4 linked regions of the Homo sapiens genome follow. The protein of the gene in region 1 purifies or fractionates together with the protein of each later gene. This does not show direct contact. Each region holds a gene or a part of one and is shown in the gene's direction. Other genes may lie near its edges.

Region 1 (7,027 bases):
GAAAGTAATCCATAATCATGGGCTCTATAAACTGTTTCCTTTGTGGTCTAGAAATAATAATGTAAAAAAGCAAAATTAGGCCAGGCATGGTGGCACACGCCTGTAATAGCATTTTGGAAGGCCGAGGTATGCGAATCACTTGAGGTCAGGAGTTTGAGACCAGCCTGGCCAACATGGTGAAATCCCGTCTCTTAAAATACAAAAATGAGCTGGGAGTGGTGGTGGGTGCCTATGGTCCCAGCTACTTGGAAGGCTGAGGCAGGAGAATCGCTTGAACCCGGGAGGAGGAGGTTGCAGTGAGCCGAGATCACCCAACAGACAGAGCAAGACTCCATCTCAAAATAAATAAATAAAGCAAAATTAGCAATTTACCATTTGACAGTATATAAGTGACGTGAGGTAAGTTGCTGTTAGAGATGATAATCAAGATGAGGAGACTTAAAACAAAAAAATTACACAAATCTAAAAATATTTTGGGGAACAAAAATAATTGGAAAAAAATTTTAACCTTTGACACCTTTTTTTTTTGGTGGGCCTAATAATGTAGTATATACTATAACATATATTAATATAACCCTGGAAGAACGAAGTTGTTTACTAAAGTGTTCTTGGTTTGCTTTTCTTTTTTTTTTGTCTTTGAGACAGGGTCTCTGTCACCAAGACTGGAGTGCAGTGGTGCAATCAAGGCTCACTGCAGCCTTGGCCTCCTGGGCTCAAGCAATCCTCTCACCTCAGCTTCCCAAGTAGCTGGGACTATAGGCGTTTGCCAGTATGCCCAGTTAATTTTTGTATTTTTTATAGAGAACAGGATTTGCCATGTTGCCCAGGCTGGTCTGGAATTTTGAGCTCTAGAGATCCACCCCCTCTTCACCTCCCAAAATGCTGGGATTACAGGCATGTGCCACTGCGCCTGGCTTGGTTTATTTTTTTCTATTATGTGGAGAGAGATGGGAATTTAACCAACTATCAATAAAAATCCTTGTGTCTGAGTAGGACACATATTTACCACCTGATCCTTTATCCAAGTTAGTATTTCTCTGTGAACTTAACCCTGATAAAGGGAGTTGAAACAGAGGCAGTTTTACTGGAAATAATTATTTTTCTTTTTTTTCTCTCCTTTTAGGAAAACGAAAAAGAACAAACAGAAAAGTAAGAATATTAACTTTCTTAACGTTAATTTATGTTACCTCTATGACATTGACGTTTTTATTTTGAAAGCTATGAAATTTTGGAGTAAGCTTATGTTTATTGATTATCTCAAATAGGAGTCTCACAGCAGTGTTATAAAATAGGTACATGGTGGTAGAGACCTCTTTTTGCCAAGGAGAAACTTGTGAGCATTTATTTTCATCTGCTTTAGTCTTAATGTCTCCCACTGAGAAGATAACATTTATAAATAAATGGAAGATGGTGATACTAAATGTTGTCTATACTAAATGTTCGGTAGAGCTCTTCATGAAAGTTGTATTTTTGGTAGGAATATGATTCTTTAACTTAGATTGAGGTAACAGCTGTGTAATGGAGAAATAATGAAAAGGGTTAATGTGTCAAGAGACTATTTTCCTTATAGAGTTTGTTAAATTAGCTAAATGAGACCCCTCCCCGCCAACATTTACAGCACCTGGAAATGGAGATGGTGGCAGTACCAGTGAGACCCCTCAGCCTCCTCGGAAGAAAAGGGCCCGGGTAGATCCTACTGTTGAAAATGTGAGTTTTTCTTGTGTTTATGAATAGCATGTTAGGATTTTTAGTCTCAGTTACATGACATAACCATGGGAGCTTTGATTATCTACAAGATTTGCTTACATGGTTAATACCTGAAATTAAAAATTTTCTCTTTTGGGGGTAAAGGATAAATTTCTGTATATCTTTATTTCACCTGTAGCTCCAGATTTACCTACCCAATTGATCATTTGTTGTGTAAGCTTCATGTTCACCTACAAGACTATTTCTTTGGTGTTACGTATTTATTTTTAGGAGTTAAAGATGTACCTTTAAGATGGTTGTGTTTGGAATAGTTTTGATATCCATGGTAAATAAGAAAATACTAAGTTAAAATGTATCAAGTCAGGGTGTTTCATTTCCTGAACAAGAGGAACCTTACTGAAGAATTTTTACCTTTACAAGAAAATGCACTAAATAGACTATAGTTCAGGTCAGATTCTTTTCTCCCAACAGCGAACCGCGTATGGTCGTTTTTATTAATGATTTTAAAAAATGACAGTACAGCTGTATGCTTGGCTACTTTAAGATTTATCCCTAGTGCCTCTAAAAGTCAGCTCCCCTCCATGTTTGGTATTTAGCAAGAAAGGTTAGGTTTTTAATACTCCTCCTGTTTCTGTTTAGGAGGAAACATTCATGAACAGAGTTGAAGTTAAAGTAAAGATTCCTGAAGAGCTAAAACCGTGGCTTGTTGATGACTGGGACTTAATTACCAGGCAAAAACAGGTAACTTGAAAAGCTACCCAGATTGTTAAGCTATATGATACATTCTTGCTAGCAAAAAAAGTTTTTAAAGGAAAATGTTATATTGACTTGAATTATTAAGGTATGACTGATAAAATAATATTTTAATTTAGAGGCTGAACACTTTAGAACTACTACCAGAAAGAGTAAGTTAGAAGAATAAAAGTTCACATATAAATTTTATGAGGTTATAATGATAAAGGTGGAAATAACTCATTTTTGGAGATTGCTAGGGCAGGAACTCGTTCTGAAAATTCATAAAGGTGAAGAAGCATATGTCTTACTGTCATTGCTAATGGTAGGCCATAGAAAGCACACACCACCACCTGCAAGGTATTCATGACCCTGAAAAGAACCTGAATCTTACTAAGCGCCTGGATCTATTGTTAGTTTGCAGGAAATAGGATGTTTAATGGAGTGACATGTTTGTCAATCGTTGAACTCTATAATTGAGAATTTTATAGGACAAATGAAGCTATTTGAACAAATGGCATAGGTAGGGTTAGGGATAGTTGGGGGAGATGATTAGGGACTGCTTGAGGATTATGAGACTTAAGAGACCTATCAGTCATATACAGTATGTGGATATAGTTTGAATTCTGATTTGAATCCTTTGGAGGGTTATGCAGTTACAGCTAAACTGCGAAGATTCAAGCATGGCTGTATCACTTATTATTTGTGAGTTTGGACAAGTTTCTTAGCCTTTTTGTGCTTCTGTTTTTGCATTTAATGGAATAATAGTTTGTATTTGACAATGCTGATGAGAGGACGAAAAGATAATTATTTTAATGCTTTAGACTAGATCTAGCAAATAGTATGCATAACAGTAAATGATGACTTGGTAGTACCACAAAGGCACATTCGTGTCTGTTATGTGTGTGTGACAGATTGACATTTTTAAAAGCTGTGCTGTTCTGTCTAGTAGAGTCTCATTTGGCTGTTTAAATATATAGATGCTCCATAACTTAGAATGGGGTTACATCGCAATAAACCCAGCAGAGAGTTGGAAAATTAAGTCCAAACCATTGTAAGTTGGGAACTGTCTGTAGTTTCTCAGCCACATTATCCATGTTTTAAGTGCTGAATAGTATCTTTCCTAATTTGAAATACTGTTACTGTTACCTGATCTTTGTATAAAAACTTGCCTGGTATGATTTTTCTTTAAAAAAGAGAGTGCTTATATTTAAGCATATTTTTGTCTTCATAGCTCTTTTATCTTCCTGCCAAGAAGAATGTGGATTCCATTCTTGAGGATTATGCAAATTACAAGAAATCTCGTGGAAACACAGATAATAAGTAAGAATATACATTTTTCAGATGACACTCAAAAGACATTTAAAAAAGTTTCTAAATAAGTCATCTGAAACTTGTACTGACTCCGAAACATTAATACCACCAGAAACTAGCAAAATAGAATTTCACTGCTTTGACACAGGAGTTGGCTGGCTGACTTTTTCTTAAAGGGCCAGATAGTAAATATTTTAGGTAAAATTTAAGCTATCATGTAGGTATTTGCATAACCATTTAAAATTTAACCATCTGAAAATGTAAGAATCATCTTAATTGCTTTAGTTTGTCAAACCCTGCTTTCATATGCCCTTTAAAAAAATCTCAGCTATGGTTCATTATTACTAGCTCAGCTTTTAATTCTTTAAATTGGTTGAATTATTCTCTATGTCAGTTATTTTTATTGACCAGTTTTGGAATATTTTTGTTCATTTATCAGGGAGTATGCGGTTAATGAAGTTGTGGCAGGGATAAAAGAATACTTCAACGTAATGTTGGGTACCCAGCTACTCTATAAATTTGAGAGACCACAGTATGCTGAAATTCTTGCAGATCATCCCGATGCACCCATGTCCCAGGTGTATGGAGCGCCACATCTCCTGAGATTATTTGGTAATATGTCATGTAGAAAATAATGGATTTTACTTTTTGGGGGGTCTTCTCTAAATGAATAAGAGGTAAAGTAATTAACTTTCCAAAACATGACTCCCATTTTAATTTGAACTTTTATCTAGAATGTTAAATAGCAAAATCTCTTTAGGAGCAAGAGTTTTAAAAATCGTGTATTTTATTTTATAATTTTTTTTTTTTGAGACAGACAGTCTCTGTTGCCCAGGCTGGAGTGCAGTGGTGCGATCTTTGCTCACTGCAACCTCCGCCTCCTGGGTTCAACAATTCTCCTGCCTCAGCCTCCCAAGTAGCTGGGATCACAGGTGTGCACCACCACATCTGTGGTAATTTTTGTATTTTCTGTAGAGATGGGGTTTCACCACGTTCGCCAGGGTGGTCTTGAATACCTGACCTCAAGCGATCGCCTATCTCGGCCTCCCAAAGTGCTGGGATTACAGGCGTGAGCCACTATGCCCGGCCTAAAATCATGTATTTTAAAGGAATTGGTGGTGTTTGCTCACATAATTAAAATACATGGTTGTAGTGCCCCTGCCTTGGATGTAACTTTGGATAAATTCTCTTGTTTAAACAGTACGAATTGGAGCAATGTTGGCTTATACACCTCTGGATGAGAAGAGCCTTGCTTTATTACTCAATTATCTTCACGATTTCCTAAAGTAAGTCTGTGCTTGAAATTATAAACATGGATTTGAAAATTAGCGTGTAATGGGAGGGATTGGCAGTATAGATGCTAAAACATTAAACATTATATTGGTACAGGCATAGATAGTTGGTAATGGAGCAGTAAAAGTAAGTGCAAACACATGGGAGTCTCAGAAATGATAGATGGTATATAGATGATATATTGGTGCAGTAGGGGAAAGCAGTGGAGTCTGGTAGATTGGTGATAAGACAGCTGACAGTTTGGAAGAAAACAAAGCCACACTTGTCATGTACCAAAATTCTAGATGAATCTGAAGTTTAAAATTAAATTGTTAAGATAATGAAAGGAGAAATGTAATATTTTCATAGTTCTATAGTGTTCCATTTATGATAAATGGTTGGTACCTTTAATACACACAGAGTTCTTCGGTAAGAAATGAACAAACCAGTGAAAAGTAGGACAGGAAATTTACATCAATGGCAGCACAAAGGACCATTAAAAATATGTCAGAAATAATGATGAAAGTATAAACTGTCAGTAAAGTAGCACTTGTCAGATTGGCTAAGGTTTAAATGTTTGAAGAAATGGAGAAAAGGGCAATCCTGGTTTCTACAAGTTTTTGGAGGGCATTTTTATAATAGTGAAGAATTTGAAACAAGCACTTATTAAAAGGGTGAGGTCACTCTAAACATACTGATAAAGATGTCCATGTTTTCAATTGAAAAACAGCCAAGCTGTAGTAGAGGAGTATGGTGTAATTGTTACTTGTAGAGAAACATTATTTTAATCTTTGCATAAGATCTGGCTTTCCAATGTGGATCTTAGTTAATACTGGGTTATTTCTTGGGCGTGGTGTTGGAAGGGAGGGTGGGAGTTTTCAGTTTCTACTTTGTATACTTCTGTATATGAATTTTCTCATTACAATCGTTTTACAGTAAATTTAAAACTGCAACGTGGACTTGAGAATGTAGGCAAGATTTATCATCTTTTCTTTACTAATGATAAATACCTTCTTTGGACCTCAGTTTCTTTATGGAATGTGCTCTACTACTTGACATTTCACGTTCCCTTTTATGTAATTAAAAAAAAAAAGTTTATTCATTTAGAGATGGAGTCTTGCTCTGTCGCCCAGGCTGGAGTGCAGTGATGCGATCACAGCTCACTACAACCTCCGCCTCTTGGGTTCAAACGATTCTTGGGCCTCAGCCTCCCAAGTAGCTGGGATTACAGGTGCACACCACCATGCCTGACTGATGTTTGTATTTTTAGTAGAGATGGGGTTTTGCCATGTTGGCCAGGCTGATCTTGAACTCCTGGCCTCAAATTTTTGTGCCTCGGCCCCCCAAAGTGCTGTGATTACAGGTGTAAGCAACTGTGCTTGGCCTGATAGGATTTTTTTCTTTTTTCTTTTCTTTTCTTTTTTTTTTTTTTTTTTTTTTTGAGATGGAGTTTCACGCTTGTCCATGCTGGAGTACAGTGGCGTGATCTCAGCTCACCACAACCTCTGCCTCCAGGTTCAAGCAATTCTCCTGCCTCAGCCTCCCGAGTATCTGGGATTACAGGCATGCGCTACCATGTCCAGCTAATTTTGTGTCTTTAGTAGAGACGGGTTTCTCCACTTTGGTCAGGCTGGTCTTGAACCCCAACCTCAGGTGATCAGCTTGCCTTGGCCTCCCAAAGTGCTGGGATTACAGGCATGAGCCACCACTCCCGGCTGATAACGATTTTTTTTTTAGAAAATGTCTAGATGTTCTTTTAGGGTAATGCTGTCATGTAATAGGATAATAACTGTTTCTTAAAGATGGTTCAAGCTCCCAAGTTGGTATTCTGCAGACATAACTGTTCTTTGCTGTTTAGAAATAGGGGAGTAACTCCAGAGTTCATTCCTTTGTATATGTATAGTGTTGTTCATTGTATAACCTTATTTATTTACCTGAATTGTCATTATGTGTGGTTTTACTGTGAGAGAATGTCTGGTTTAATGTATTTTAGGAAAGTGTT
Region 2 (7,027 bases), on another chromosome or scaffold:
GGAGGACTACAGGTGCATGCCACCATGCCTGGCTAATTTTTTATTTTTATAGAGACAGTGTCTCGCTATGTTGCCCAGGCTGGTCTTGAACTCCTGGCCTCAAGCGATCCTCCTGTCTCGGCCTCTTAAAGTGCTGAGATTACAGGTATGAGCCACTGCATCCAGCTCTGACAGTTTTTGCACCTAAAGATAAAGATTTTGTCTGTGTGCACATGTAATATACGAGGAAAAATTAGGATGATTAGTCATTTTTCCTAGATATTAGACAAGATTTTTCTAGAGGTCGTGTTAGTTCACAACATTTTATTAAACTGTTTTATACTATGTACAGTCATTAAAAGTTGCATAAAATGTGATGTACATGCACATGTGTATATGTAGGTAATGAAATCTTGCTTCTAATCTAGCTTATTTTTAAGGAGAAAGTGGTGTTCTGAAATTGGTTTTGTTATGCAGAACTGTGGTGCAGGGGTTCCTGCACCTGCAGTTATTTATCTCTCATTTCATAACTGTTGTAACTTAAATGTGTGTAATTAACTTCTAATGCAAATGATTAGAATTAGGTTTCTTGATACTCAGAATCCTTGTTAGGTACATTTATACTCTTGAAATGATTTACCCATCTAGAAACATGGTCCAATTTCATTCAGAAAAGTATTTAAAATATGTTATAAAAGTATAGATTACAAAGATAAATCTCAACCTTGTTTGTTACTTTTTTCTTTTACTCACAGTGTGTTATCCAGGATTTTCAAGCTTCGGTACTTCAAGTGTCAGATTCAACTTATGATGAACAGTATGTTTTCTTATTAAAATGTATACTTTATAAATGAGGAAAGGATTTGTTTAAAAAATACTTAATTGAATAATGTTTAAAATATTCTCACTCCCTTTTTTTTTTTTACAAGTTTATAATTCCCTAGTAGTTTATAATTTTGAAGAGAATTATTTTTTGTCTTTTGTGTAATACGGTTTAATATGTTTTCAGAGTGGCTGCACAGATGCCAACTGTTCATTATGAATTCCCCAATGGCTACAATTGTGATTTTGGTGCAGAGCGGCTAAAGATTCCAGAAGGATTATTTGACCCTTCCAATGTAAAGGTATAAAAGCTTATTTCATAATTAGCCTGGCTTTTCCTATATAGGTAAAGAGCTTTTGTGGCTAAAATGTTTTGGATATGCTTTACTGTATGAAGAGCTTCCATGTGACTACTTGTTTTCTTTTGTTGTAGGGGTTATCAGGAAACACAATGTTAGGAGTCAGTCATGTTGTCACCACAAGTGTTGGGATGTGTGATATTGACATCAGACCAGTAAGTGCCAGTCTCCTGTTACGGTTTAAAGGTATCTTTTAGGGGACTGAAATGTCCCCAAATCATTGTTAGGTTGACAGTGATCTAATGGTTGTCAGTGTCATTGACTTTGAGGTTCATTTTATAACAGTATATGTAAAAAGATGAAGTACTAGAAAAGGAAAAATGTGAAACTCTAGAGCTATGGTGTCCAGTTTTGTAGCTACCCGCCACATGTGGCAATTTAAATTTAAAATAGATAAAAACATAAAACTCAATTCTTCAGTTGTAGTAGCCTCATTATAAATGTGGCTAGTGGCTGCATCAGACAGCGCAGATATAGAACATTTGCATCATCACAGAAAGTTATTGTAGACTGCGCTAGAGATTTCCTGAAATGTGGCAAACCAAAATATGTATTGTTGGTGATTTTCTTACAGATAGCACAACTTCTACTTTTATTTTTCAGGAAGGCGTGGTTTAAATTATATGAGTAACTTTTACATGAAGTTTATTTTAAATGCTCTTCATATTTTTTGTGCTTTGTCAGGTTTTAAATACTAACTCCATATTATATACTTCACTCATTATCAGTGATAGGTTCTTGGAGACTGCAACTTTAACTGAAACGATGTACAGTAGGTCCTTGAAGGACATTGTTTCAGGAAAAAAATTGGTTTTGTTACATGACATTTTGCTGAAAGTCAGTTTCCAAGGTCATATTGATGACATTAAATGAGGACTTACTTTATCTTATTTAAACCCAATTCAGCTTATCACCCACATACTGCCTAGATTTTGAGTAAATTAATTTGCTTAAAGCATAGTGCTAATAACTACTATGTTATTCAAAAAAGGCTTTGAGTGGCTATGAAAATCATACTTTATTTTACCTTTATTTCACCTGGTAACCTAGTAGGCATGTGATGTTTCTAGGACAATAGTAGTATAAGTTTGGGATTTTTTTAGCGCAAATACAATTCCACCTTTCGGGGAAGGTAATTGAATTGAAGTATATTTATTGCAACAGTGATAACTGTTTTTAGTGAAGTTTCTCCTTTTAACTAATGAGATACTTTTGCATTCCATTTTCTACTTCAAAATTTAGATGATTTAGACATTTGAAGTATGTTTTAAAAATAGGAACTTACCCACTAAAACAGTTTGACATTTAACTTTCTGATGCATACATGCAAATTCAAAGTAAATACACTGCTTATAAGTAGTAATTTATTTTTATTTGGGAAGGGCTTAGCATATGTGTTTTGGAAAAGCTCCCATGTGCTTCTGATGCTTACCTCTGCAAAAGAGAAAAGTAGCAATAATTTTGGCGAGGAATATGTTCAGAGTTTATCATTGTCTGTCATAATCATAAAATAATTGTCTAATTTTGAATATCCTAACTTACAGATAAGCATTCTTTTTCAAAATATTTGTAATTTTAATTTTTGGCTGGTGGTTGCAATTAATATTTCCAGATGAGCATTCTTTGAATATCCTAACTTACAGATAAGCATTCTTTTTCAAAATATTTGTAATTTTAATTTTTGGCTGGTGGTTGCTATTAATATTTCCAGATGAGCATTCTAAGATAAAGTCATTATAAAATGTACTTCTAATTAAATATTGGCAGCTATCTGCCAAAAAAAAATTATGATTTTTAGAATGATTCCTTTAAGTTAGTGGTTCTTAAAACTTTGTACACATTAAAATAATCTTGGGAGTTAAAAACCATGCCTGCCAGGTACAGTGGCATGTAGTCCCAGCTACTTGGGAGCCTGAGGCAGGATTGTTTGAACCCAGGAGTTTGAGGCTGTGGTACGCTATGCCTGTGCCCGTGAATAGCCACTGCATTCCAATGTAGGCAATATAACGAGACCCCGTCTCTAAAAGTAACCTTGCCTGGATCCCATCCCCAGACATTTTTATTTAATTGCCCCTAGGAATTTGTGTTTTAAAAGCTCCTTAGATGAGTTGAATGTACAGCCAGGATGGAGAATTGATGGATTAAGCTATTAGTTCTATATAATAGTAAAACATTTCCAAAAAACGAAAGGGAAATTGTAGTAGAGCACATGGTTATATTTGTAGTTGTATTTAAAACTTTTGGAAACATATGGAACTAATTGATTTTTCTTGTATTTTTATCCTAGGGTCTCTATGGCAGTGTAATAGTGGCAGGAGGAAACACACTAATACAGAGTTTTACTGACAGGTTGAATAGAGAGCTGTCTCAGAAAACTCCTCCAGTAAGTTCTGTTTGTTCTTTAATGGTATTCTTCAGTCATATATTTCCTCACTGATGGTGTAATTTTGTAGATAAGCGTCCATTTTTCAATAGATACATGATATTTTGTGTGTGCCTGGTATAGTATCACTAAAGTTAATATCCTTTAATCGTTTTCCTAGTTGACATCTATTAGTTTCTCTTAAATTATTTGAATCTCATTTATTAATATTTAAATATGTATAGTCTGCTAGGCACTAGTCCCTGCACACCAAGGGCTCAGTCTACTAGGATGGTTAGACATGCAGAAAATGATGACTGTAACATGCTCAACAATTCAGTATGTCATGAACGAGGTGCTGTTGGGAACACCAAGAAGCCACTACTTAACTCTCTAGGAGTATCAGAGGATAGCCTCCTGAAGAAGCTATAGTTTGAATGAATAGTTCAACTCATTGCTAATTTATGAAAGGATATCTAGATGGAGGGAATAAAACCATTTACAAAAATACTAAGAGAAGACAGGTATGTTCCAGTAATTCAAAGTAGTTGGCTTCTAGTCTTTACGTAAGTGGGGAAAGCAATATGGCTAGAAAGATGGATTAGTTTCCTAGAGCTGCCGTAACAAAGTACATGTTAGTGGCTTCAAACAACAGAAATTTGTTGTCTTATAGTTCTTGAGGCTAGAAGCCTCAAGGTGTCAGTGGAGCTATGCTGAATCTCTAGGGGAAAATACCTCCTTCTTCACAGGATAAAATCTAGCAGTGGACTGATGAGCTCATGTTTGTTTTAAAAAGATCAGTGGGTATATTATAATAACTTTTAAAAGAATAGAAAAACTCGGTTTGAGAAGGTAATTTATATAGTACTTCGGTAACAGAATGACAGTTATAATCTTTTAACTTTAAAATTTCTATCAGCTGGGCGTGGTGGCTCACGCCTATAATCCCAGCACTTTGGGAGGCCGAGGCAGATGGATTATGAGGTCAGGGAGACCAGCCTGGCCAACATGGTGAAACCCCATCTCTACTAAGAATACAAAAATTAGCTGGGCCTGGTGGCGGGAGCCTCTTAATTCCAGCTACTCGGGAGGCTGAGGCAGGAGAATTGCTTGAACCCGGGAGGTGGAGGTTGCAGTGAACTGAGATCACACCACTGCATTCCAACAGAGCAAGACTCCATCTCAAAAAAAAAAAAAAATAACAAAAATTAGCCGGACACGGTGGCACGTGCCTGTAATCCCAGCTACTTGGGAGGCTGAGACAGCAGAATCGCTTGAACCCAGGAGGCGGAGGTTGCAGTAAGCCGAGATCATGCCACTGCATTCCAGTCTGGGTGACAAAGCAAGACTCTGGCTCAGGAAAAAAAAACAACAACAACAAAACTTCAAGTGCTTTTTTTGTAAGGTGTTCTGCACTGAAGATTACATTTAAAAAACCTTATTAGTGGTTACATATGCCCTAACAATATCTATAAATCTGTATATTTAATAGTCTTTTAGCTTCCCATATAAAATAATGTTTTACGTGTGCCACATTTCTATTATTAAAAGTGATATCTAAATATATAGGCACACAGTTGACATCTGCCTTGTATTTTCTAAATTCTTGGAGATCTAGAGCATACCTGAATTATAATACTAATCATTAGATTGATTGATTGATTGGAGATTTATTTATTTATTTATTTACTTGAGATGGAGTCTTGCTCTTGTCCCCTAGGCTGGAGTGCAGTGGCACGATATCAGCTCACTGTAACCTCCGCCTCCTGGGTTCAAGTGATTCTCCTACCTCAGCTTCCCAAGTAGCTGGGATTACAGGCATGTTCCACCACACCCGGCTAATTTTTTATTTTTAGTAGAGATGCAGTTTCTCCGTGCTGGTCAGGCTGATCTCAAACTCCCGACCTCAGGTGATCCACCCGCCTCGGCCTCCCAAAGTGCTGGGATTATAGGCGTGAGCCACTGCACCGGTCTATAATACTAATGATTAGATTTCATAGAAAGTCCCTGAATAATGAATACAGATAAGCATGGCCCAAGCTGTGGTCAAGGCCAGTTAGAAACTATCCTTGTCCTTTAGGAGGTGATAACAATCTCTGAAAGAACAGGAAAAAAATTCTATTTAATAGTTACCAATCTTTCTTACCTACAAAAACCCATGTTTACCCTATCCCCAGTACCTTCTACCCACCCATATCCCATACTCTACCCACCCTTGCTGCACACATACTTATTTCACTTTGAAAAGCCCCAAAAATATGTTCATTTATAGAATAATAGGAAGATGTCAACAACTTGAGAACTGTCCCCAGAGGCAGATTCCTTGGTAAGAGAAAGAAAAAAACCTCTTCATATAGGAAGTGAGATATAGGGGATAGTACTGTGCAATAAAATTGTGTTATCAAGAGAAAATGAGAGTCAGAACAGAAGCACTAATTTGGAAGGAAATAGTATGAATAAAAAACTAACCTGATATCTGATGGTTGTGTTTTTATTTAGAAGGGTTGGGGTGAACTAAGGAGGGATTAGGATAGCATGAAAGCCTAGAAAGGAAGCAGTTAGAAGGTTGGGGAGGACTACAGAAAGGGAGACAGATTGGGATGATAATTAGGTTGGTGTTGGATGAAATGAAATAATAAAGACTTAGCACAGCACCAGATTTATAGTGTTAGGTGTGGATTTGCTATTTTAGGATAGAAATTGTGAATGCTATACTTCAGTATGCAGCTTTTTAAAGTTTGTATGTTTTCTCATCATATAATCGCATGTTAAAAGCCATAATCAAAGTACTTTTAAAAGTCTGTACATTAGTCTAACCTATGCTTGTTATCTTGGCTATTTCAAAATTACCGTATTTTAATCAGTGTTTGAACCACAGGGAGCCATTATGAAGTCTGTCAAAATTGAATTTCCTGGCTGGGTGCAAGTGGCTCATGCATGTAATCCCAGCACTTTGGGAGGCTGAGATGGGCCGATTGCTTGAGTGCAAATGTGAAGACCAGCCTGGACAATATGGCGAGGAAGACCCTGTCTCTATTTGAAAAAAAAAAAAAAAAAAAGAATTTTCTAAGTTGAGTCACAAGATTTGATTGTACTAATGCATATTCTTCTATTTCAGAGTATGCGGTTGAAATTGATTGCAAATAATACAACAGTGGAACGGAGGTTTAGCTCATGGATTGGCGGCTCCATTCTAGCCTCTTTGGTTAGTAGATGAGCTACTTTGCAAAAATATTCTTACTGAATTATACTAAATTTAGTAAAAATACAAAAAATAATTCCAGTGCTTCATTTGTCTGTGCATTTTATAACTGTCAAATGAGTGGAAGACCTAATGGAATAACCAGTTTTATGTGTTCTGATGTAACAAAATGCCTCTGCCTAATTAGTGGACATTTGTCAGCCTAATTTCAATGTCCCCTCTCAAACAGAGGTGGAAATATGTTAATGTATGCATGCCTTTTCTAATAATACCCCCATTGGCACTGGTCAGGGCTTGTCTGGA
Region 3 (7,027 bases), on another chromosome or scaffold:
TTACCTTTTGGGGGATCTTTTTGACCCACTGTAACATAATAGAAAACAGCAGGGGCTTTAAACTTAGAGACCTGGGTTAAAATCATGCCCCTACTTCTTAGCTTCATGAACTGGGGCCGTGTTGTCTGGGCTGTAAATGGAGATGTTGGTCATACTGACTACCTACATTTGAGGGAATGAAATAAGATCATGCATGTTAAAGTGCCTGGTGCAGCATAAGTACACGGTAAGTGGTGACTGATGCTGATTCTCCCACCCCTTCCTGTTCAGAAATAATTTGTCAGGATTGAAATAGCTCTGTTTCTTCATTTGGATTTCAATGAAAGCTACTTGCTGAAGTTTTTTTTAAAAAAATGTTACCTATAATATGTAATACTTAGGAATGTAACAAAATGCTTTAATTAAATTATTTAATGTGTATCATGGTGTTCTTTGTATACAAAGCTGTTGTGGGATTGGGTTGTGGGATGTGCAGTGGCTTAGAGAATGTAAGAAAATGCCAAGCAGCCTGCATTCTTGGATGTTGAGGATTGTTGTGTGGTGCTTTGCAGGGTTCAGTTTGGGGTATAAAGGGACTGTGTTTTATCACCATACAGAACAGTAAAAATGTTGACTATTCTCAATGCCTGACTCTGAGGAACAAGATCCTACTCCACCTCATAGGCCTTTCTTCTGCTGACTTACAACATGCTTCATAACGATTACTTGGACTTTCTTAGCTATTGTCCTTCAATTGAGTTAGGTAATTGTCCAAATAATTGATTTGGCTGGCTGGCTTGCTTTCTTGCTTTCTTGCTTTCTTTCTTTCTTTTTTTTTTTTTTTTTTTTTTTTTTTTTTTTTTGAGACAGTCTCGCTCTGTCTCCCAGGCTGGAGTGCAGTGGCACCATCTTGGCTCACTGCAGCCTCCACCTCCCGGGTTCAAGCGATTCTCCTGCCTCAGCCTCCTGAGTAGCTGGGATTACAGGTTTGTGCCACCACACCCAGCTAATTGTTGTATTTTTGGTAAAGACAGGGTTTCACTATGTTGGTCAGGCTGGTCTCAAACTCCTGACCTCGTGATCCGCCCGCCTCGGCCTCCCAGAGTGCTGGGATTACAGGTGTTGATTTGGCTTTTAAAAGGTTTTATTTAAGTATCTCTAAGAAATTTGTTTTAATTAGATAGTTATTTCATATCTCTTGTTGAATAATGTCTTAAATATATTGAGACTAACTTATTGTCTACCTAAAAAGCTTTGTAATTTTTCAAATTCAGGAAGTATAAAAGGACATAGAGTGAAGAATAAGTCCCCTTTCCACATCCCTTACTGTCCTACTTCCTTTCCCCAGTCATTGTTTTCAATTTCCTAACCCATCCTTGCCAGCGTGTAGAAGTGCATACCTGTATCTTCATTTTTTATGGTAGCAAGTTCTTCACTTGAGTTTGTCAGTAAGAGTATGTATTGGAGATTTTCCTGTCAGCATGCTTGGATATGCTTGTTCTTTTCAAGAGTGCCATAGAATTTTGTTTATGGATACACTGTGTAATGTATGATACCAGTTCCTTGCTGATGGATACTTAGTTATTTTCAGTCTTTTTCCTTCTATAAACAATACTGCTGAGAATAATCTTGCAATAGGCCAGATTTATGTGATGCTTGGCTAAATTTCCTAGTGGTAGTTACTGGGGTCAAAGGATTCTGCACTGAAAATGAATAGGCTTTCTTAACCATTAGTCCTTCTGCAGCCTTTAGGTACATCCAGTATTGGAGGAAAATAGTGTCATATTGATTAGTTTAGGAAAACAGGCTGTGTTTTAATGATGGAGGTGAAGGGATTTCTAGTAAAAAGAAAAGTCCTCATATGATGATCAAGTTGGGGAAAACTGGAATAATTAAATTTGAGTCCAGAGGGATTTTTAAGCTCCTCCAGTCCGTCTTGGGACAGTGTTCCTTAGAAAGGGCCTGTGATAAACTGACCTACCTGTTATTTTTTACTTGTTGGTCTTAGTTTTCCTGCTCAACTCCACAAAAAACAAGTGACTTTTTTCCTTTGATGACAGTACCAGCATTGCTCTGTGGTGCCTTCTTTCTCTCAAGCATTATTATTTCTCTTTTTAAATATTTATTTAAATTTTTGTTTTTTGTTTTTGTGTTTTTTGTTTTTTGTGGAGATGGGATTTTGCCACGTTGCCCAGGCTGGTCTCGAAGTCCTGGGTTCAAGCAATCCGCTTGCCTTGGCTTCCCAAAGTGCTGGGATTAGAGGCGTGAGCCACCACATCCGGCCAAATATTTATTCTTTTTTTTTTTTTTTTTTTTTTTTTTTGAGACAGGGTCTTGCTATGTTGCCCAGGCTGGACATGAACTCCTAGGCTCAAGCAGTCTTCCGTAGTAGCCCTAGTAGCTGGTACTACGGGTGCACAGCACTGCACCTGGCTTACCCTTTCATTTTAAGCCACTATTCCCTGTAAAGGTTTGATTTTTATCCAAGTCCTCATAAAGTATGTTGCTTAGAGCCTAATTTTAATGGTTTTACTGGTTAAAAATAAGTGGGCAAGCCAGATATGGTGGCACACATCTGTAGTCCCAGCTGCTGAAGAGGTTGATGTAGGAGGATCAACTTGAGTCCAGGAGTTGGAGGCCAGCCTGGGCAACATAGTGAGACCTTGTCTCTTAAAAAAAGAAAAGGTCGGGGGTGGGGGGCACATGTGCTCATGTGCATTGCCCCCTACATACATATAAAGACCACCTAAGATGGAATTAATTAATTTTTTGATAGCCACATCATATTCTTGGCCCACTGTGCATGTATCAACCAAGACCCATGTTTTCTTTCTTTTTCTTTTTTTTTTTTTTTTTTTTTGGAGACGGAGTTTCACTCGTTGCCCAGGCTGGAGTGCAATGGTGTGATCTTGAGATCTTGACTCACCACAACCTCCACCTCCCAGGTTCAAGTGATTCTCCTGCCTCCGCCTCCTGAGTAGCTGGGATTACAGGCATGCGCCACCATGCCCGGCTAATTTTGTATTTTTAATAGAGATGGGGTTTCTCCACGTTGGCTAGGCTGGTCTCGAACTCCTGACCTCAGGTGATCCGCCTGCCTTGGCCTCCTAAAGTGCTGGGATTACAGGCGTGAGCCACGGCGCCCATTTGTCTTTTTTTCAAACACGTTGCTATTGCTTAGTCACGGCTGCCTTACTCTGTTTTGGGGGGAGTGTGTCTGTGTGTGTGTGTGTCTCTTCTCCATGTGCACACACTTTTTTACCGTAAGCCAAATTTTGGTAAAATTGCATCTTGTATTTTCTTATTACTAAATTACTTGCCTAGAAGTAATCTTCAATCTTTTTAGAAAAAAAAAAAAAATTGAATCCTTTGTGCAGCTGAAATTTAGAAACAGATAAATGGCCTAACTTGTCTTGTGTTAGGGCCTAGACCCCTACTTCTCAGTCCTCTTCATTGAAGTGGGACCATGGAGCACAGTTGAAAATTGTATTCTAGATAATACAAATGGGAAAGCCTTTTTAATAGATACTGATGCAAAAATCACTGCTCGGACCAAGGTGCCAAGAGGTTTGGGCAAGTTCTTCAGCCTCAAGGTGTTTCCACAGAACAAGGTAACAAAGATACCTCGGTAAAATTGAGAATGTTCGTTTCATAAACTTAGGTATCATAAACGTCAGTGAGTTTCACATCATGCCATTTGCACTTATAGCCTATTTTATTCAGTGAAGAAACTGAGGCCCCAGGGAGGTTGTGTTTTAAGCAACTGCATTTTAGTTTGATCCAGGATTTAAGCTAAGTTTTTTTGATTCAACACTTTCTGTCCATACTACCTTGTAGAATTTCTTATTGGGAAATAAGAAACATCTAGTGTATAAGATATTTTTAGGTGGGAAGAAGATTTCTTTAGGTGGGAAGTTGTGATTTATGAGTGTGGGGATTGTTGGTGGATTCCTGTGTAGATGTTTGTCTGTGTTTACTGAGTTGGGCCTACCTTCCCCGGAGTGCTGCTCTATAAAAGGTAGTGTTCACGCTGATAATTGAGGCACAGGAGGATGGCTCTTTGGGAAAGAAGCAAGCCCTCTGCATGTTGTAGCTAGAATATTTTCTTATATTTGCATATGTGGGGATTGTAAAGTTGGTAACCAGAGGGGGAGAAGATACACAGTTGATGCTAAGTATATATTTGCTAAAGAAATATGAATGTATTTTGAGGGAACTAGACTGAATTTGTTAGCAATTGGAGATTTCTTGTAGGATTAGTGTGACTTATTTTCTTTCTTAAACAGACCTGAAGGAAAAGATTATGCCCTTCATTGGCTAGTGCTGGGGACTCATACGTCTGATGAGCAGAATCATCTGGTGGTTGCTCGAGTACATATTCCCAATGATGATGCACAGTTTGATGCTTCCCATTGTGACAGTGACAAGGGTGGTAGGTATATCATATATTCCAATATTGGTGTCAAAGGGAAAATGTCTCTTTCAAAGCATATGCTATTAAAACTATACTATTAGCTTTTGGCCCAGTAATTTAACTTCTAGGACTTTATTCTACAGAACTTCCCACCCACATGTGCACAAGGATTTTAGTCGTAATTGCAGAATTGAAAAATTAGGATCAACCTTGTAACCCAGATGTTGGTTCATAGAAAGTTGGTTAAGCACATGGTATGTTTGAAATACTACTCAGCAATTAATAAGAAAGGCCAGGTGCCATGGCTCACGCCTATAATCCCAGCACTTTGGGAGGCCAAGGTGGGAGGATTGCTTGAACTCAGGAGTTCAAGCCCAGTCTGAAAAACACAGACCTCATTTCTACCAAAAATTTAAAAAAAAAATTTTTTTTTTTAATGAGAAAAATCTGTAGGCACTGGTATAGGAAGGTATCCAAGATAAATTAAGTGACTAACTGCTATGTGTAATTACAGTATTCCACTTTGGTAAAAGTAATATGTGTTGGTGTGTGCAATGGGTATTTTTTGTTTGAGGAGAGAGGCAGTAGTGGTAGGGTTAATTCAGGAATCTGTTGGCTGCTTTTTTCTTTTTTTAATTTGTCAAACATATACTCTCCTGTTTTGGTATTCCCATGACCACCCCAAGTTTGGTGATTTTGCTAGGACTCCCAAGAGCAAATTATACTTGTGGCTAAAGTTTGTTACAGTAAAGAACACAAAAGCAGCAGGAAAAAGATGTACATCGGCAAGTTCAGGGAGGTCTGGCACAAGTCTTGTCCAAGGCCACACAGGATGTGTCTTCCGGCAGCAAACTGCAGGGACATGTGTGAAATATCTCTGCTCAGGGAAGCCTGTTTGGGTCTTGGGGTCTGAGGCTTTCTTGGGGGACTAGTTGCATAGGCACATCCTGCTGACAACCAGCCACAGCAACTGTAACTTGAGGACCCCAGTAATACAAACTGAGGACCCAGTAATAAAAGAAGGTACGTGTCATCAATCTTGATATCTGCAGAGTAACCCTGACAAACTGGTACAACGCGGTCCATTGCTCCAGGTGCACACCACAAAATCATCAGTTCATCAGTGACAGAAAGAACATTCTGAGGTGCATGTTCCCAGGAGTTAGCCAAGGGTCAGTAATAGGGTCCCAGTGTTCCTCAGAGACTCCAGGGCTAAGCACCCAGACTGCTGTATTAACTCTTTCTTCACAGTCCCAAATGGCTTAACGCTATTAGCACTTTCTAATATGTGCCTTAGGGTTTTTTTCTTATTGAAAATAAAATACTGGCCAGGTGCAGTGGCTATACCCATAGTCCCAACACTTCGGGAGGCCAAGGCAGGAGGAACGCTTGAGCCTGGGAGTTTAAGACCACTCAGGGCACACAGTGAGACATTGTCTCTATCAAAAAATAAAATTAAAAATCAGCCATGTGTGGTGGCGCATGCCTGTAGTCCTAGCTACTTGGGAGGCTGAGGATCGCTTGAGCCCAGGAGTTCGAAGCTGTAGTGAACTAGGATCACACCACTGCACTCCACCCTGAGCAACAGAGCAAGATCCTGTCTCAAAAATACTACATTCTCTAGTGTAGTGAAACTGCTAGGTTGTATGGTGTATTCATTGTCAACTTCATAGAAAACTATTTTCCAAAGTGATTTACCCAGTTTACTACTCCCACAATTTACTGTTCATTCCCCGACAACTGTATGCATTATTTCTTTAAATATTGGGGTTTTTTTGTGTTTTGTTTTTGTTTGTTATGAGGCAGGGTCTCGCTCAGTCGCCCAGGCTGGAGTGCAGTGGTGCAATCTCGGCTCACTGCAACCTCCACCTCCTGGGTTCAAGTGATTCTCGTACCTCAGCCTCAAGAGTAGCTGGGATTACAGGCGTCCACCACCATGCCCGGCTAATTTTTGTATTTTTAGTAGAGACTGGGTTTTGTCATGTTGGCCAGGCAGGTCTCGAACTCCTGGCCTCAAGTGATTCGCCTGCCTAAACTTCCCAAAGTGCTGGAATTACAGGCATGAGCCACCACTCCCGGCCTGAATATATTGTAATCAGAAATTTTTAAATGGCTTTTAGCCCTGAAGTATGTATTTACCGGGCTTGCAGTTTAACAGTCTCTGCATAATGATGTTAATATATTATTAAAGTTACACATCCAGTGTATTCTAACAAGTAGCTGAAATAATTCAGTTAATACCTTTGTTAATATTCAGTATATATATTTTTTTTTTCTTTTTTTTTTTCTTTTTTTTTTCGAGACGAAGTTTCGCTCTGTCACCCAGGCTGGAGTGCAGTGGTGTGACCTCAGCTCACTGCAACCTCTGCCTCCTGGGTTCAAGCGATTTCCCGAGTAGCTGGGACTACAGGCGCCCGCCACCACACCTAGCTGATTTTTTGTATTTTTAGTAGAGACGGGGTTTCACCTTGTTAGCCAGGATGGTCTTGCTTTCCTGACCTCATGATCCGCACGCCTTGGCCTCCCAAAGTGCCGGGATTACAGGCATGAGCCACCACGCCCGGCCAATATTGAGTTACATTTTTTAATGGATATTATCATTAAGACAGTGACTTTTCAAAATTTTAAGTTTGA
Region 4 (7,014 bases), on another chromosome or scaffold:
TTGTACAGTTAACACAATTATCACAGTGGTCCTTAGGTGACGCACATCCTCAGTTTACGAAGACAACAGGATTAAGAGATTAAAGACAGGCATGAGAAATTATAAAAGTATTATTTAGGAACTGATAAATGTCCATGAAATCTTCACAATTTATGTTCCTCTGCCACAGCTCCAGCCGGTCCCTCCGTTTGGGGTCCCTGAATTCCCACAACACCCTCCAAGAAAGTGTTATTCCCTCTGTTGTCCTGTGCACTGTAATGCACAAAATAACTTATTTTGATGATCAGGGTCTTGGCCTCTTGACATACACACTGAAAAAAATGGGAGTTGTGTTATGTGCGTCCTACATAAACATGTCAGCAAATGTGGCCACCACTTTTTAATTCTCTTTTCTCAGATTGCCCTGAATTTTGCCACTTTGAAGTAATGTGCTGAATAATCTCAGCAACCAAAAATGATTATCCAGGAATGATTCTTGTGAGCTCATTTACTCTGAGTTATTATATCCCTTTTAGTAGATTTTATACCCCTTTAGAAAATGTAAGAAGAATGAAAACATCTTCTTTTAAAAATGCTGGTGTGGGGCCATGCCTACTAGAAGAGGCCAGATGGTCAGATAGGTATTTCCCCAAACCCATCTTGACCTTGAGTATGTGAGGGGGTACTGTACTTCATTCCTGATACATTTTGGTTTCCATGTTGGCACTGAGCTCTTGGTTTTCTGTTTGGATGGTGGAGATTGGGGCCCTCCTATTCACAGTCCCTTTCTAAGTGAAGGGAAAGGCTGGTTTTTGCTGTTCCTTGTGATTCCAAAAACCCTGATTTGGGGCCCATGTTCAGGCTGGCTTTCACGCTGGCTCTCAGTCTGGTCAGATGCAATGTTCTTGAGAGGAGAGGACCTGACTGTTACCATAGTAGCATCCAAGAGAGGAAACAGTGTGAATTAAGTACTCAAAAGGAAGCACGATTTCCAAAAAAAAAAAAAAAAGGACTTGCAAGGAGAAAAATGTAAATCTTCCTAATGATCTAAGAAGATTAGAGGATACAGCAGCCAGGGACTGGGGAGCTGACAAGGACAGAGGATGAAGATGAGTGGGATGAGGAGGAGTTGAGAAGCCTGCTGTTGGGTGGTTATTCAGTTGGCCCTCCACAGCCATGGGTTCCACATCCACAAACTCAACCAACCACAGACCGAAAATATTCTCAAAAATAGATAAATATATGAACAATATGACAATAATAATAAACCAATACAGTATAGGAACTATTTATATAGCATTTATTTCATATTTGGTATAAGTAATCTAGAGATGATTTAAAGCACACAGGAGGGTGCGCATAGGTTATATGCAAATTCTATGCCATTTTATATAAGGGACTTGAGCATTTATGGATTGTGGATTTTGGTATCATCGGGAGTCCTGGAATCAATCCTCCATGGATACTGAGGGACAACTGTACATGTGGATATTGACCTGATCCATGGCAGTGTCTTGTAGTGGAGAGGAAGCTGGTGAGTTATGGGCCAAAGTTTTCAGTGAATGAGAGGGAGTCACTTGCAGATGAGTTGCAAGGAGAGGTATATGTTCCCAAATGGAGAGACATTCAGGAGCATGGAAATCAAGTGCCTAGATTTCCTCACACTGTAGGTGAGGAGAAACTTCCTCCTCACCTTTTTTTTTTTTTTTTTTGATGGAGTCTCTCGCTCTGTCGCCCAGGCTGCAACCTCTGCCTCCCAGGTTCAAGCAATTCTCCCGCCTCAGCCTCCCGAGTAGCTGGGATTACAGGTGCCTGCCACTACACACAGCTAATTTTTTGTAATTTTAGTAGAGATGGGGTTTCGCTATGTTGGCCAGGCTGGTCTTGAACTCCTGACCTCAGGTGATCCACCTGCCTCAGCCTCCCAAAGTGTTGGGATTACAGGCATGAGCCACTACGCCTGGCCTCTTCTCACCTCTTTGGTTCTGTAGCTGGGCATGGGAATTACACTAACATAAGACAGATTTACTGGAAAAGGCATAAAAGTTTTAATATTTTTGTACATGCACAGGAGGCTTTGTAAGAAAAATAAAGACCCATAGAAGTTACTAGGCCCGAAAGCTTATATGTCCTTTTAAACAAAAAATAATAAATTGCAGGGATGTGACAAGACAAAGGGGCTTGGGCTAAGGCTGGCAAATTGTGGGAAAGTGACGAAGAACCGTATGTAGAAAGTTAATGGAAAATATGGGTTACAAATTTTTGTAAGGTTTTGTTTGTAGATTCTTCTCAGTGGCAACTCTGCCTCTGGCAATAATATTCTCCTCTTCCTGGTACAGAAAGGGCACCTTTCACAAGGGAACTTTTATGTTCCGCTTCAAACAGAAAGAGGGTGGTCAGACAGCCTTCCCTGCATCTGTTTTTGCTCCATTGCCTCTGGCTCAGAAGAATCAGTATGCCAAAGTGGCATATTTTAGGATGGCAGGCTCTAAACACCTTCAGCATTGTTCTAAAGTGAGACAACACTCTTTACCTAGTCTCCTCAGCCACTTTTACAGTTGGCCCTAATCCCCATAACAGTCCTGGAAACTTATTTTTACTGTTAAGGAAACTGAGATTTAGAGGGGAGGTGACTGAGCCACAACCCACACCCCAGAGGGCTGTTCCAAAGCCCTCCTCGAAATTGGTGCCAAGGGCAGCAGCTATAATGACAGCCAGTCCACATAGAAGTGCCTCCGTTGATCACCAATTAACAGTAAAATCTGATAATATCTCATTCCAAGGTTGTTATAAGCACTAAATGTGGTTTTGTGACATAATAGGCGTTTGTTTCTCCCCACTGCTTCCCACCACAATATATTCATCAAGACCTTTCCAAGGATACTAAGTCTAGGAAACCCAGGATCATGAAGAGAGGGCATGTTCTTCCAAGTGAGGCTGAGGAGAGACTTGTCTGGCGAGGCCTGTACTGACTAGTGACATTAAAAGAGGCGATCTGACTTCTCATACTGCTCTTGTCCCAGGCCTGCTGTTTGTCAACTGCTGGGTCCTCAGAGCCAAAACTGTTTTCCAACAGTTTTGAATTGAATAACAGCCAGCTATTCGATTTTCTCCGCATTCTCTAATCGGTATACTCTTCAGAGTCCACAGGATTTGCAACGATATTATCCAACGGCTGAAGAATGTGCGCTTGACATCTTAGGCTGTAAAATGTCTCAATTTCAATTTCTAATACATAGATGTCAGTGGATGGCATTTTCTGAACCCTTTGTCGATGTCCATAAACGGCATGCTCTGAATTCAACTAAACAAAAGTATAGACATGGGGGAGGTGTAGGGCGATGTCCAAAGTATAATTTTTAAGAGTGTAAAGGGTTCCTAAGTAAGATTGCCAGATTTTTTTTTTTTTTTTGAGACGGAGTCTCACTCTATCCCCCAGGCTGGAGTGCAATGGCGCGATCTTGGCTCACTGCAGCCTCCACCTCCCGCGCTCAAGAGATTCTTCTGCCGCAGCCTCCAGGGTAGCTGGGATTACCCCAGAGCCCGCCACTGAGCCCGGCTAATTTTTGTATATTTATTAGAGAAGGGGTTTCACCACGTTGGCCAGGCTGATCTCGAACTCCTGAGCTCAAGTAATCCGCCGGCCTTGGTCTCCCAAAGTGCTGGGATTGCAGGCGTGAGCCACCACGCCAGACCTGGATTGCCAGATTTAGCACATAAAAATACAGGACCCCCAGTTAAACGCCTCTCGGATAAACCATTATTGCATGGGATACACTCACGCTAAAAAAATTGTTCGTCGTTTACCTGAAAGTCACATTTAATTGGGCGTCCTGTATTTTACCCGGCAAATTCTAGGCCTGAGACCAAAAAGTTTGAGAACCCTGCCCCTAGGCGACAGCAAGCGGAACTGCAGCAAGCTCCCAGTAATTCCGGGTGCTGCACTTCCGGTCAGGCGGTCGGGCTGCGGGGCCCTGGGGCCAGCTCACCGCCGGAAGTCTCCGCGTCCCCCCCACCCCGGCCAGATCCCTTTCCCAGTCCTGCTTCCCAGTGCCTCGGGCCAGGGAATCCTGGCCTCCGCCTGCGGAGCCGGCGGAACCCGCTTCCCGCCTCCACGGGGCAGCGCCAGCGGCCTGGTCCTTTCACCGGCAGCTCCGTGCCGACGCTCTCACCGCTCTTCCTATCGCCGGGAGTGGCGGGCCGACCAGGGGGCGGCCGGGCTACCGTCCGCCATTCCCGTGTCTCTGCGCCCGCGGGGGCCGCCCGAGCCGGCCACCATGCCGCTGGGCCTGAAGCCCACCTGCAGCGTATGCAAGACCACGTCGTCCTCCATGTGGAAGAAGGGAGCGCAGGGGGAGATCCTCTGCCATCATTGCACTGGCCGGGGCGGCGCGGGCAGCGGGGGCGCAGGCTCGGGGGCGGCTGGAGGGACTGGGGGCAGCGGCGGCGGCGGCTTCGGCGCGGCGACCTTCGCCAGCACCTCCGCCACCCCTCCGCAGAGCAACGGGGGCGGGGGCGGCAAGCAGGTGAGCTCCTCCGGCCCCTCCCGCCGGCGGAGGCCGACCAGGTGCTAGGCGGGCGGGGACGGGCTGGCTGGGAGCGGGCGGGCGCGGGCTTCCCCGATCGCCGTGCTCCTGCTGGCTGGAACGCCCCTCCCCACCTCCTACTGAGATCTTTCGTTTGGCCCATTCCGAAGCACCTGTTATTGTAAGAAATTCAAAGCAATAAGAACCAAGATGTAAAGCCCTTAAGAAAATCTCAATATACACATGTCTACACAGTCGTATACAGTGTCATGCCACAAATGCAGGCGCTGGACCTCATTCCTTGTTAAAGGTTTTGTCATATCAGGTTATGAAGTAAGATTATTATGTCATTATTGTAAATGGCAGCTTAAGTATTCCGTTGCAGGGGGCGCCATAACCTACTACGTTCTCTGGCCTTAGGGAGTAAAGTTGTTAAGTGTTTTTCTCTATTGTAGACACAACAAATGAATAGTGTTTGTCTTGGTCAAGACTGACTCCTACTCCCGCCTCCTGCCCTATTACAAGCAGCTCACACCTTTTGGAGGCTCTGGAGACGCCTGTCCAGCGAGCTCCGAGATTCCGGGTGCTGAACTTCCGGTTTTACTTAGCCTAGTTGCTGTAATTACTTCTCTTGAAAAGCAAAAGGGCAATCTTAATTGTTAAATGCTCTTATAAAGTACATACTCTGGGATCCTTGTAAGATGATTGTACTGCAACCTTTATGCACTTTTTACTTCTTTCTCTTTTTGTTCTTTAATTTGTTTGTGTAACAGAGTAAGCAGGAAATTCACAGGAGGTCTGCTCGGCTCAGAAACACTAAATACAAATCTGCTCCGGCTGCTGAAAAGAAAGTCTCCACCAAAGGAAAAGGGAGAAGACATATATTTAAATTGAAAAATGTAAGATATTTGTGGACAGTGCCTTTTACTGTAATGACGTTGTGTGTATCCTGCCACTGCCTTCATTTCTCACCATTGAACTTGGACTCTGCCCTTGGTAGCCCTTCCTTAGTATTCTGGGGAATGGTCCAGATTCCCCAAAAGGGAATGAGCTCTGTTGCAGGAGGCTCACTGTTTATAAAGTTAATAATACTCTTTCCTTTTTGTTTTTTAGCTTTTATTTTTTCCCCTGGAAAATATAAAATATGGGTTTAAAAGAAACATCAACCTTGAGCCCATTTTTTGGGGTTCTCTATGGAAAGGAAGAGGAGAGATTATGGTTCTTGATATGGCCAGGTACACTAAGAAAACTTTTTTTTTTCATTCTTTAAAAATCTAAGTAAATATTAACACTAGAACTCATCATTTGCATATTTATTTGTTATTAAAGCCCCAGAAAATGTATCTTACTGACTTATGATGATGATGTATTTGATGAATATGAGTCAAAAATTTTGCTAAGCCTTATCTCCTCTTCTGCTCTAAGAAAAGAGATTGTTGAAAGACCTGTGCTGGAAGTAGTTGAAAGCATATTTTTATTGCAATTAAATTCTCAGTTTTTATAAACAAGGGATAATGTTCAAACACAGTGGACAGTGCATTATGGACTATTTTTTTAAGTCTCAGTATGATATTCTTTTCTTTCAGAACAGGAATGTTTCACTTACCCGTAAAGACGTTTCTGAAGTTGGCCATATTTATTTCTAAAACACAAAGGGACCCTGCAGTAGACTTATGCAGATGGCAGACTATTTTCTTTTTTTTTTTTTAATTTAATTTAATGAATTTTTTTTAATTTTACTTTAAGTTCTGGGATACATGTGCAGAATGTGCAGGTTTGTTACATAGGTATACGTGCCATGGTGGTTTGCTGCACCTATCAACCCATCATCTAGGTTTTAAGCCCCGCATGCATTAGATATTTGTCCTAATGCTCTCCCTCCCCTTGGCCCCCATCTCCGACAGGCCCCAGTGTGTGATGTTCCCTTCCCCAAAGTATTTTCTTATTCAGACTAGTTGCTTCTAATTTATTTAAGATTTTTATAGTTAAGTGAGGCATTTGTTGATTACACAAAACATGTTATTGATATTTGTATCACATATGCACATTTTTTTCCTTTTAAGTATGGTATACCGTGTTCTCAGCAATTATTTCATTATCGTTTCTCTGCAACCTTTCTTCAATGGTACTAAGCAAGACACATCTGGGGAGGCCTACTTTCTATGTTGTGGCATAAAAGTATGTATTGAAGCTTTAGTAGAGATCTCAAAAATGGTTGGATGGTAGCAAATTACTAAGAACTCTCAAAGTTTCTAAAGCCTTAGTTTCAGCTTGCTAGAAAACCTATGTTGAGTATTATGGCTAGTTCCATAGTTGAGTTGGGAAATGTCTTTGAGGAGACACTTTTTCACTTTGTATTCATCTGTACATTTTCTGTTACTTGCATTCTGTCATGCTCAGGCTATTAGAGCAGGTACATTTTTATAACTGGAATGTTTATGTGTAGTGAAGCTCTGAGAGGACTTTGCATTAGATCTCAGCAGCATAATCAGAAGGTTGTCCTTTGTCT

The links.
Region 2: the proteins of MORF4L1 (region 1) and ACTL6A purify together in Homo sapiens (affinity purification with mass spectrometry; 6 studies listed by BioGRID and IntAct, with this or other methods). This does not show direct contact.
Region 3: the proteins of MORF4L1 (region 1) and RBBP7 purify together in Homo sapiens (affinity purification with mass spectrometry; 7 studies listed by BioGRID and IntAct, with this or other methods). This does not show direct contact.
Region 4: the proteins of MORF4L1 (region 1) and GATAD1 purify together in Homo sapiens (affinity purification with mass spectrometry; 9 studies listed by BioGRID and IntAct, with this or other methods). This does not show direct contact.

The regions. Positions count from the first base shown.
Region 1 is NC_000015.10:78,889,866-78,896,892, forward strand, and holds part of MORF4L1 (mortality factor 4-like protein 1), read left to right. Parts: intron 1-1,123; coding exon 1,124-1,149; intron 1,150-1,618; coding exon 1,619-1,707; intron 1,708-2,346; coding exon 2,347-2,448; intron 2,449-3,673; coding exon 3,674-3,762; intron 3,763-4,192; coding exon 4,193-4,365; intron 4,366-4,954; coding exon 4,955-5,039; intron 5,040-7,027. UniProt on the Homo sapiens protein: Component of the NuA4 histone acetyltransferase (HAT) complex which is involved in transcriptional activation of select genes principally by acetylation of nucleosomal histones H4 and H2A.
Region 2 is NC_000003.12:179,579,906-179,586,932, forward strand, and holds part of ACTL6A (actin-like protein 6A), read left to right. Parts: intron 1-734; coding exon 735-796; intron 797-988; coding exon 989-1,103; intron 1,104-1,234; coding exon 1,235-1,315; intron 1,316-3,447; coding exon 3,448-3,543; intron 3,544-6,640; coding exon 6,641-6,727; intron 6,728-7,027.
Region 3 is NC_000023.11:16,860,339-16,867,365, reverse strand, and holds part of RBBP7 (histone-binding protein RBBP7), read left to right. Parts: intron 1-4,265; coding exon 4,266-4,411; intron 4,412-7,027. UniProt on the Homo sapiens protein: Core histone-binding subunit that may target chromatin remodeling factors, histone acetyltransferases and histone deacetylases to their histone substrates in a manner that is regulated by nucleosomal DNA.
Region 4 is NC_000007.14:92,443,474-92,450,487, forward strand, and holds the start of GATAD1 (GATA zinc finger domain-containing protein 1), read left to right. Parts: upstream 1-4,008; 5' UTR 4,009-4,256; coding exon 4,257-4,505; intron 4,506-5,278; coding exon 5,279-5,404; exon of another isoform or gene 5,405-5,618; coding exon of another isoform or gene 5,619-5,783; exon of another isoform or gene 5,784-7,014. UniProt on the Homo sapiens protein: Component of some chromatin complex recruited to chromatin sites methylated 'Lys-4' of histone H3 (H3K4me), with a preference for trimethylated form (H3K4me3).